Linked DNA regions of Homo sapiens: region 2 is linked to region 1. The links come from fine-mapping of genetic effects on plasma protein levels. A gene starts in region 1. The other region holds a variant in brackets. All regions are shown on one strand. Distances are from middle to middle. Region 1 holds the start of CFI (complement factor I). Region 2 has its middle 5.6 kb from the start of PLA2G12A.

What was found. PIP is the chance, under the fine-mapping model, that this variant and not a neighbour inherited with it causes the effect. Sun 2018 read protein levels with aptamers (SomaScan).
Region 2: its variant is fine-mapped to the plasma level of the CFI protein (Sun 2018, PIP 0.95).

Annotation. Positions count from the first base shown.
Region 1 is chr4:109,799,513-109,804,897 of GRCh38, reverse strand. It overlaps CFI (complement factor I), which reads left to right and starts at 2,899. Exons shown (of 13, transcript NM_000204.5): 1 at 2,899-2,983. The coding sequence starts at 2,927. It overlaps LOC124900757 (a long non-coding RNA gene), which reads right to left and starts at 1,226. Exons shown (of 2, transcript XR_007058226.1): 1 at 1,063-1,226.
Region 2 is chr4:109,732,980-109,738,364 of GRCh38, reverse strand. It overlaps a transcript of CFI not described here. Among named protein-coding and RNA genes, the nearest start is that of PLA2G12A, 5.6 kb to the right of the region's middle. The variant C/T (reference allele first, on the strand shown) is at 2,791.

The DNA.
Region 1 (5,385 bases):
AAGACCATCCTGGCTAACACAGTGAAACCTCATCTCTACTAAAAATACAAAACATTAGCCGGGCGTCATGGCGGGCGCCTGTAGTCCCAGCTACTCAGGAGGCTGAGGCAGGAGAATGGCATGAACCCGGGAGTCGGAGCTTGCAGTGAGCCGAGATCACGCCACTGCACTCTAACCTGGGTGACAGAGCGAGACACTGTCTCAGAAAAAAAAAAAAAAAAGAGAGAGAGAAAAAAGAAAAAGGAAAAAAAATCTTTGTATCACATGTTAATGCCTACTAGAAAGCATCCACCAAAGAAAAGGCACTAAATAACCAACAAAATGGCTCAACCAGTTTGGCTCAACAAAACGATTGAGCCAAAATGACTGAGTCTCAGTCATCAGCCACCCCACTGCTGGCACGATGGGCACAAGAATGAAGTGACCGTGGTAACAGAGATAGAGGCCACCCATGAGGCCAATAGCACAGACCCCGAGGCTTATCTAGCTCCCATCATTAACAAATGCCCAACCTGACAGCAGCTGACACTAATACTGTCCCCACAAGATGGCACAATTCCTCAAGGAGACCAACTAGTCACTTAGTGGCAAATTAATTACATCTGATTCTTTCACTCTTTGGAGGGTCAGTGGTCTATTCTTACAGGAATAGACATATTTGAGGTATGAGTGTGCCTTTCTTGCCTGCAGGGCCTCCATTAGCACCATAATCCAGAGAATTATAGAGTGCTTAATTATCTAGCAAAGATCACATCCTGCCAGACAAGGGTGCCCACTTTACAGCAAAGCAGGCCCAGGAGTGGGCCTGTGATCATGCAATCCCCTGGTCATATCACATACCACACCACTCAGAAGCTGGTGGACTTACAGAATGTTATAATGGGCTGCTGAGGACAGAGCTGAGGTGCCAGTTAAATGCAAAACTTTGTGAGAATGGGGTGCTATCCTCCAGGAAGCAGTATATACATTCAATCAAAGACTTTCATATAGCATTATGTTCCCAATAGGAAGAATACCTGGGTCTGGGAACCAAGGAATAAAGGCAAGAATTACCACACTTACCATCACCACCATTGACCAACTGGGGGCTTTGTGCATCTTGTCTCCACAGTTGTAGACTCTGCAGGGTTCGTTATCTTGGTCTCCAAAGGACTATACTTTCACCAGGGGCAAGCAAGAGTCCCATGGAATTATAAACCAGAGCTGTTGCCTGGGGTACGCTGGGCTCTTTGTGTCTAGGAACTAGCAAGAAAGAGTCAGAATCCACAAGGGTAATTGGCCCTGATCATTCCGAGGAAGTAGGGCTGCTATTACTATAATGTGGGCAGGGAGGAAGATGTGTAGAACCCACATAACCTACTGGGGTACCTCTTATTTTTTGCTTTTTTTGGTTTCTTTTTTAAGAGAGGGTCTCTCTTTGTCACTTAGGCTAGAGTGCAGTGGTGCAATCATGGCTAACTGCAGCCTCAACCTCTCCCTGTGTTGCCCAGGCTCATCTCAAACTCCTGGCCTCAAGCAATCCTCCTGCCTTGACCTCCCAAAGTGCTGGGATTACAGGAGTGAGCCACCATGTCCAGCCTGCCTCTTGTGACAGTAGGGATAAAAATGGCAACTTTTGCCTGAGAAACAAAAGGTAACCAGGGGCTCAGACCACTCCTGAAAGAGAGTGTGGGACATGTCATCCAGTAAGTCACCGAGACCAGCAGAGGTGGGAGGTCAAGGTAAAGGGAATCTAAAATGGATAGGAAGGGGGCCAAGGGTAAGTTTCAACTACAGCCCCAAGATCAACTGCAAGGGTAGGAGCTGTAGTTTTTCCCATTAACTTCCTCTTCTAAGTTTTCTCTCAAGAATAGGGACCCACTGAAATGTTTAAGGAGCCACTCCTGGAGTGTATATGGAACATAGATCTAAGAGGTGCAAGTATGTACTCTGAAAGACACAGAGATGAGTTTCCCAGAACCCTTGTCAAGGAAGGTCTTGCTACCTGGCTGTAAAGAGTGTAGTCAGAAGATACCTCCTCCTGATAGCACATAACTGTCAGATCCTTCTGTGTCTGCCTTAGCTACAGAAAACTGTCTCACCTAAGTGTATGCCCTTCCTGGGCAATATATAGTAGGGGACCAAGCAAGGCAGAATATAATGGCCCAGCCATTTATACTGAAATCAGGGGCACTGTGACAGGTCACACTCACTCCAGTTCAACTTCTACCTCTGTTCACCCCTGCTTCCCCTCCCTTCCTTGTATGGATATCGATCCCTAACAAACACTTGTGCCCCACACTCACTGTCTCAAGTCTGCTTCTGATGAACCCAACTGTGTCAGCATTTCTGCTATCACAGATTTATTTCATAAATAGATAAACCCTGCATGATAGTTGGTACTGGCACAAGAATACTTGTTTTTAAAATTTCTTGTACTCCAAAAATACAATTTGATCACAGCACAACAAATGCATGGTAAAGAAGCTGGTTTCTAGAGTTTTAAATGTATTTTGCAGCCTTCACTATATGGTCTACTTTTATTCTTACTGTCTCCTAGTCTTCAACCTTAAGTTTAAAAAATTATATTTTTACTGTACAAAAAAAAAACCAAAAAATTGCTTCCAATATAATTTCTGTCTTCCCTGGAATACAGAATTGAGTCATTGCAATTAACAGGGTGGGAGGAAATCAGTCTCTTCTGGTGGAAACAAGTTCCTATTGGTCACCTCCCTCAGCTCTTTAATGGGAAGGCCATTTTTTGGTTTCAGTTACGGTAAATCTCTCTGGATTTCAGCCAAATTCTTTCAGAGTTCAAAAGTACAAAGCTCTTTAGGAGGTTTGTTCTTTTGAAACATTTTTTCAGAGGTTAAAAATTAAATTTCAAAAGAATACCTGGAGTGGAAAAGAGTTCTCAGCAGAGACAAAGACCCCGAACACCTCCAACATGAAGCTTCTTCATGTTTTCCTGTTATTTCTGTGCTTCCACTTAAGGTTTTGCAAGGTAAGTAATTCAACCTTTATGCAAACAATTTTAATTGATAATTTAAAGGTTGTAAAAACATAGAAAATAATCTTAAATATATAATTTTGATTTAAATATTACATAGTTCAGTTACAACAATGCCACTCTATAGTCAGCAACAAATGTTTTATGTTAATATCTTGATAAAAGTGATTTTTTAAAAATAGTTCTTTTTATGTGCTTATATATGCAGAGGCATTGAACTGAACAAGAATTTTACTAATACAAGGCTGTGATTTACTGTAATTGTAGTAAATCAAAAATATTTACCAGGCTCCTCCTGTGTGTAAGGTACAGTGCTACGAAGACAGTGAGACTGATCTCTTCCTTCAACAGCCTCTTAGTACGCTCTATAGTTATAGAAAGGGGAAATAATAAGCAAATTTGAAACATCTGAAAACACAAAAGTGCAAGTTACAAGACAGTATATATTTAATTGTCAAAAGTGATACAAATATGTGGTAAAGGACTTCAATGAGAGGACAAATCACTTCATGCTGAGAGGTCATGAAGAGATTATAGATCAAGTAGGATTTGAGCTGAACGTTTAATTCTGTATTACATGTGATCAGTGGTGAGAAAGAGGAGTGATTTCCAGCTTCTTTAGCCAGGAAAAGCAGCAAGTGCTACCATAGGAAGGCAGCAATGCACTAGGCCCCTCCAAATAAATGAATCCATTTGATCAGAATGAAGGCTTTGTGGGCTACAAAGGAACTCGAAACTGAAATGACATATTTTATTGAAGTTAGAGTGTCATCTATTAAGGTGAAAAATGTTTAAAATATTTTGGATACTTATTGATGATTGCCAACTTTGGTGGCAATCCAAAACTATCTTGTCTTAGTGCCAGCTTGTAGAAGAAAATATTTAAAGAAAACTACTTAAGAAAACACACTTTAAGATTCTTGTAACTTCTAAAATAGTTGCCATCATTGCAATGTTTATAATAGAGAATAAATGGAAATAACTAAATGCTTATTAATAAGACACTGGTTAAATTATTGTATATCCAAAATTGAACTATTACATAGCCATTGAAATGACATATTTATCTAAATAAAAAGTCCTTACTACAATTTTATTTTTATTGAAGAAAAACACACACACACATATGTATGTGTGTTTATATGCATATATATAAATGCATACTTATACCTACTTATATATATGACTAAAAGATCTTACAGTGTATGTATCAAACAGTTAATAGTTGCTATCATTGGCTAATAAGATTACTGGTGATTCTATTTTCTGTTTTCGGTTTTACTGAACCTACTCAGACAAGGAAACTAGGGGATTCAGAAAAGATGGAAAAGAAACCCATAGCACAGTGGGAGTGGCTGCTGGGGCCTTCTAATGGGGGGAATAACCAGAGGATGTTCAACAACAAGGAAGCTGACTAGGTGTGGGGGTTCACGCATGTAATCCCAGTACTTTGGGAGGCTGAGGCAAGAGGATTGCTTGAGCCCAGGAGTTTGAGGCTGCGGGGAGCTCTGATCATGCCACTGTATTCCAGCCTGGGTGACACAGCAAGATCCTGTCTCAAAAAAAAAAAAAAAAAAAAAAAAAAAACAGAGAAGCCAAATATTTCAGTCAACATGATTACCTACCATAATTGTGCTGTGACGTAATCACCAACTGATACCCTAAATTTTATTTTACCCTAAAATTTTATTACAAACTCAGGCACATATGGGTGGCATTTTAGAGAGAAAGAACTGGGGTAATGTTAAGCAGAATGACAACATCCTGGAAACAAGGGTGGCACACAGGAGGGTGTGCAGTGCAAGTGATGGCAGCGGAAATGGCAGAGTAGGCAGATCCACCAAAACCAAAAACCAAAAATCCATTTCTACAGAAACCAAAGGGAAGCTGTCAGAACCAACTTTATTTAGAACTCTGGAAAACAGTCAAAGGTTTATAGCACCTAAGAAAATGTTGAATGCAGGAACAGGCAACTAAAAATGGTATGAAAGCTTAGTAGCATTTTGCGTGTCTGTCCTTTGTGTCCTTGCCCCATACCCTCCCTAATTTGGCAGTGGTCTTGAAGGATATCTGAGTACATAAAATAGCCTTAACACAATAACAACAAATTTTGGTTTATTAAAACAAGTTCACACATTGTCATTAAAAAGACATTTTGAAATTCACTGTATTCTCATTACCTTAGTTTGCAAATGTTAAAGCAATTTTCTTCTAAAAATACAAACTGTTTCTCTTACTATGCAGAATATTATCCTAATCACTTACCACACTTCTATCACCCTATCACTTATAATACTGTTGTAAACCAACCACTAAGTGGCCTTTCCACTTACAATTTCTTCATGTATCTTAGATTTCAGTTTCTTAATCTTCCATGGGAAAGTATATAAATCTGT
Region 2 (5,385 bases), 67 kb after region 1:
CAAAGTTGGTGGATCATTTGAGGTCAGAAGTTTGAGACCAGCCTGGGCAACATAGCAAGACCCCATCTCTATCACACACAAAAAAAGCTGGGAGTGGTGGTGCACATCTGCAGCCCCTGCTACTTGGAAGGCTGAGGTGGGAGGATCATTTGAGCCCAGGAGGTTGAGGATGCAGTGAGCTGTGATTGCAGCACTGCACTCCAGCCTGGGTGACAGATCAAGACCTCGTCTTAAAAAAAAAAAAAAAAAAAAGAAAAGTACTCCAGTGCTACAAGGTGGGAAACCCAGCATATAGGGCATCCTCAGCCAATCTAGGAAGGGGGCCCCCAAAAGGGCCAAGCCAGTCTGCACAGTGACCTAGCATCTGGCAGCTTCACAGAAAAGTAGACCAGGGTCAAGCCTTGAAGGGTGAAAGTCAGCCCTCTGAAGCGACTCTATGTGACAGAGACCAGGAACAGCAGGAGTGAGATGACCTGACTCCAAGCTTCTCCTAGTTTAGAGGTCTGTCTCAGCGCTCCTAATTCCAGACTACAGAAGCCAATCTAACTGGTTTAATGAAAAAATAGATTTATTCAAAGATATTATGCAGTTCACAGAATTTCCAAAAGAGCCAGAGAATTGGAGTCTACACATCTGGAAATAACGCTCACAGACCACACTGCAGGACTGCTCCATCAGAGACTACCATGGCCACTAGCATGGGTCCCAGTCTCCACGTACAGCTTGTACTGCAGAGCCTGGGCACTGGACATTGCTGCTTCTGTGAGCTCGCCTGAAGGTGGCCAGGGACACAACTCATTGGATGTGGAGCTCTGCCATCGTCTTATATTTAACCCTGGTTTCAGAGCTCTCTGTCTTACAAGAGAAATGGGAAAATAAATTATGCGGCTGCACCTTGCCAGGTACAATGGTAAGGAAAACTAAAGGGAGATCTAGAAACCAGCCTGACATATTAAAGAGGGCTTCTGCAGAGGTGAGCTTAGTCTGAATTATGGAAGAACTTTCCAGGCAGATACAAATGCAAAGGCCCTGCAGTGTGAGGAGCTAACCACACACAAGGATGGAGAGCAGTTCATAGTGACTGGAGCCCAGGGTGCAGCTAAGGAGCTGGAGAGGGGGAAAGGCCATACCAGGGAGAGCCTCATACCAAAGAGTTTGGACCATTAAAGGATTCTAGGAAGTTCAAGCTGGAGACAGCAAGGAAGATGTATTGGAAGTGGGTGAGAGAGGGTATGGAAGATGGTTAAGACACTCTTGGAGTAATCAAATGAAAAATAATGAAGGTAGAAACTAAAGCAGGGATAAAAAGGATGGCACTGACTCTAGATATGTTGAGTGAAATAGATGGCATTTGGGGACAAATAGATTACAGTACTAGGGAGAGGGATTTGAGACTAGGATAATTCCCAGTCTCTTAGATGGTGAGGTGATTGGTGTTGCCACTGAGTACAGAAAGGAAGGAAGTAGAGGAATGGAATCAGATTTAGACAGTTAGGGATATTTTGAAGTTGTGATGTCTAAGGAAGCCCAGTGAAGGTGTACAGTACGTGATAGGAAATACGAAGCTGAAAATCAACCAGAGGTTTGGAAGTAGCCAGGAACCCTAATTAGAAGAACTACATACGGACTCTGTCCTGATGGCTTAAAACCCTGCAGTCTCAACTAAGTGGGTTCTTTCCATCCCTCCTGTGTGCCAAGCAATCTTACATTGTGCATACAAAGATACCTTGAAAATATCTTTTTGATCAAATTTTCTTGATGGTAGACCCCCCACCATACCCAAGCAGAGGATCATTGTCTTCAACATATTATGGAACAAGCCCATGCTCATAGATCTGGTGCAGCCATCTCTTGCCCTTCACTTTGTCCCAGCTTGAAAGCTATTAATGCCATTGACTTTCTAGCCAAAGGCTGGAACCTAGTACTTATTTCTCTTTAACTTAAGTTCCCTTTTAGAGATGAAACTTCTAGCCTTGGTGCGGTGGGAAATTAAAGAAATAAAGAAAAATAAAATTAAAAAGAGAAAGAAGTAAGCTTTCCTGTATTAGGCTGACTCATCCCAAAGGCAGTAGCAGGCAAGGCCCAGACCCAGGAAAAAGAGTCTTGATAAACACTATCTAAGAAGCTAGGACACAAAGGAATGTGCTCTGGAGACTCTCCCAGCACTCCCTCAACATAAGGAGAAGAAAAACAAATTTTCCTTTCTCTTATAGTATGAGTTTATAGATTTCTGTTCTCTGTAACTAGCAACTTCAAGCATTCTGTTTTATCTAAGTAGTGGAGTGAAGGTCATAAACTGTCTGAGCAGGCCTGAGATACAGCCACCTGGACGCCATAGTGAAGGTCATGGAATAAGCTGTGCTAGGCACTAAAGGAAAACCTAGATAACTGACATCTGGGTTGCACAGCAACGGTCATGTGTAATCCTGAGTTATGAACCTGTCACAATTTGATTAATTGCTCTGCCTCTGTATCCTTGCTTTCACACCACTGTAACTGTAAGCCTGCTTCAAGCTAGCCCACTCCCTTTTTGAAGTGTGTATAAAAGTCAAGTGCTGTCTTTGTTCTAGGCCCAGTTTTCCAGATGTAAGTCTGAGTACACTCAATAAAGATCCTCCTGCTTTACCCCGAAGTCTCTCTCATCCGCCTGATTCCCGCGACATTGGCACTAGCCATAGATTAATCATTATGGATGGAATTGCTTCACCATGTGGCTTTTATTTTCATCCTGGACAAAAATTAACCATTATGGCTGGAACTGTTTTCACCACGTGGCTTTTATTTTCATCA[C/T]AACACTGCTGAGGCCATTAGTGAGACATTGGAAAATACTAAAAAATAGAAATTGCTGTTTATCATTAATATTTTATTGATTTTTGTTATTTAAAATAACACAAAGCATTGTGTAATATTGTAGTTTCCAAGCATTCTAAGTTAATGTGGTACGTTAAACCCCACAAATTTTGCATTCTCATCTCATCAATACTACCATGTTTTTCCATGATGCTCATATATATAGAAGAAACCATTTGGTGTTTCTAGAAGAGATCTGAGATCTGACTGCCTATCCTGATTATTGTTCTGGGAAGTTCTATATAGAAAATATAGTGTAGGGCTGGGTGCGGTGGCTCATGACTGTAATTCCAGCACTTTGGGAGGCCAAAGCAGGAGGATCACTTGAGCCCAAGAATTCAAGACCAGCCTGGGCAACACAGGGAGACCCCATCTCTATAATAACAATAACAAAAATTAGCCAGTCACAGTTGTGTACACCTGTATTCCTAGCTACTCAGGAGGCTGAAGTAGGAGGATTGCTTAAGCCCAAGAGTTCGAGGGTACAGTGAGCTATGATCATGCTACCCCCACCTGGGTGACAGAATGAGACTCTGTCTCTGAAAAAAGAAAAGAAAAGAAAGCCAGTCTTGGCCACCCAGAATCTCCCATTCCAAGGTATTTATTAATATATCATTCAGACAAGAATAAGCACAAATATAGTATATTTTATATTTTCATAATTTATTTTGATATTCACTGTAATTGCATTTCTTTTCTTTTCTTTTTTCTTAGACAGACTGTTGCTCTGTTGCCCAGGCTGGAGTGCAGTGGCACGATCTCAGCTCACTGCAACCTCCACCTCCTAGGTTCAAGCAATTCTCCTGCCTCAGCCTCCCGAGTAGCTGGGATTACAGGCACCTGCCACCACGCCCAGGTAATTTTTTTGTATTTTTAGTAGAGACAGGATTTCACCATATTGGCCAGGCTGGTCTCGAACTCCTGACCGTGTGATCTGCCCGCCTTGGCCTCCCAAAGTGCTAGAATTACAGGCATGAGCCACTGCGTCCTGCCTGTAATCGCCATTTCTAATTCTTTTCTTCCTCTGACTACAACTGTGTTTTCTCCCTAGTACTTCAATGAGACTCTTGTGAAGTTCACCAATAACCCCCAAGTTACTAAATCTAGTAGTCAATATCCGGCCCTCACCTTCCTCATATCAGCAGAATGGGTGGTTCTGTCTTTCTTTGACACACCAGAATATAGCACTTTTCCACTTCTGCTGCACTTGGCTGCTCCTTCTTAAGCGCCTTTGTTCTTTTTTCCTTGACCTCCTAAGACTTAGACCTTGCTCTGCTTCTTTGTGTACACTCACTTTTTAGAGGATCTCATTTAGTCCCATGTTATTTATTTATTCATTTATTTAAGACAGGGTCTTGCTCTGTTGCCAGGCTGGAGTGCAATAGCGCAATCTTGGCTCTCTGCAACCTCTGCATTCCGGACTCAAAGGATCCTCTTACCTCAGCTTCCCAAGTAGCTGGGACTACAGGCATGTACCACCATGCCTGGCTAATTTTTGTATTTTTTTTATAGAGATAAGGTTTTGCTATGTTACCCAGGCTGCTCTTGAACTCCTGGACTCAGGCGATCTGCCAGCCTTGATCTCCCTAGGTGCTGGGACTACAAGCATGAGTCACTGCGCCCAGCTAAGCCCCATGACTTTAAAAGCCATTTCTATTCTGACAACTTCCCAATGCGTTTCTAACCTTTATGCTGAACTGCAGACTCAGAATAAGCTTCTTGGATATGGTATGACTGAAATTTATTTTTAAAATTTTCCCGCAAAACCCTCTCCTTCCACAATTCTCCCCATTTCTGACAGTTAGAACTCTCTCTATCCTGTGGCTTAGGCCAAAATTTCAATGCCATCCTTGATTCCTCTTTTTCTCTCATATTCAGTCCATCAGCAAATCCCTTCTGCTCTACCATCAAGTTACATCTAGAATATGACCACTTTTCACACCTCCACTGCTCCTTTCCTGGACCAAGCCATACTTATGCCATACCTAGATTACTGTATCATAACTGACTTCCTATCTTCAGCTTCTGCCCACCACAAAGTATATATAGACAAGCTAGCCACTCTCTAGCAGGAAAGACCTGGAACACAGCTGTGGATTTGCAACTAATGATGTCTGTCATGAAAATAACAGGTTTTGCTGGTTAGATGAAAGTGTCCTGTAAAGAAGGCTCTTTTCAAACAGTTTATGCCAAAATTTGGGAAGAAAAGATGGAAGTGGGTCATCTAGAAGTTACGTGAGATGAGCTGGGCACAGTGGCTCATGTTGTAATCCCAGCACTTTGGGAGGCCAAGGCAGGGGAATGACTTGAGGTCAGGAGTTCGAGACCAGCCTGGCCAACTTGGTGAAACCCCATTGCTACTAAAAATACAAAAAATTAGTCAGGTGTGGTGGCGGGCACCTGTAATCCCAGCTACTCGGGAGGCTGAGGCAGGAAAATAGCTTGAACCTGGGAGGCGGAGGTTGCAGTGAGCTGAGATTGTGCCACTGTACTCCAGCCTGGGCAACAGAGCCAGACTCAAAAAAAAAAAATTTA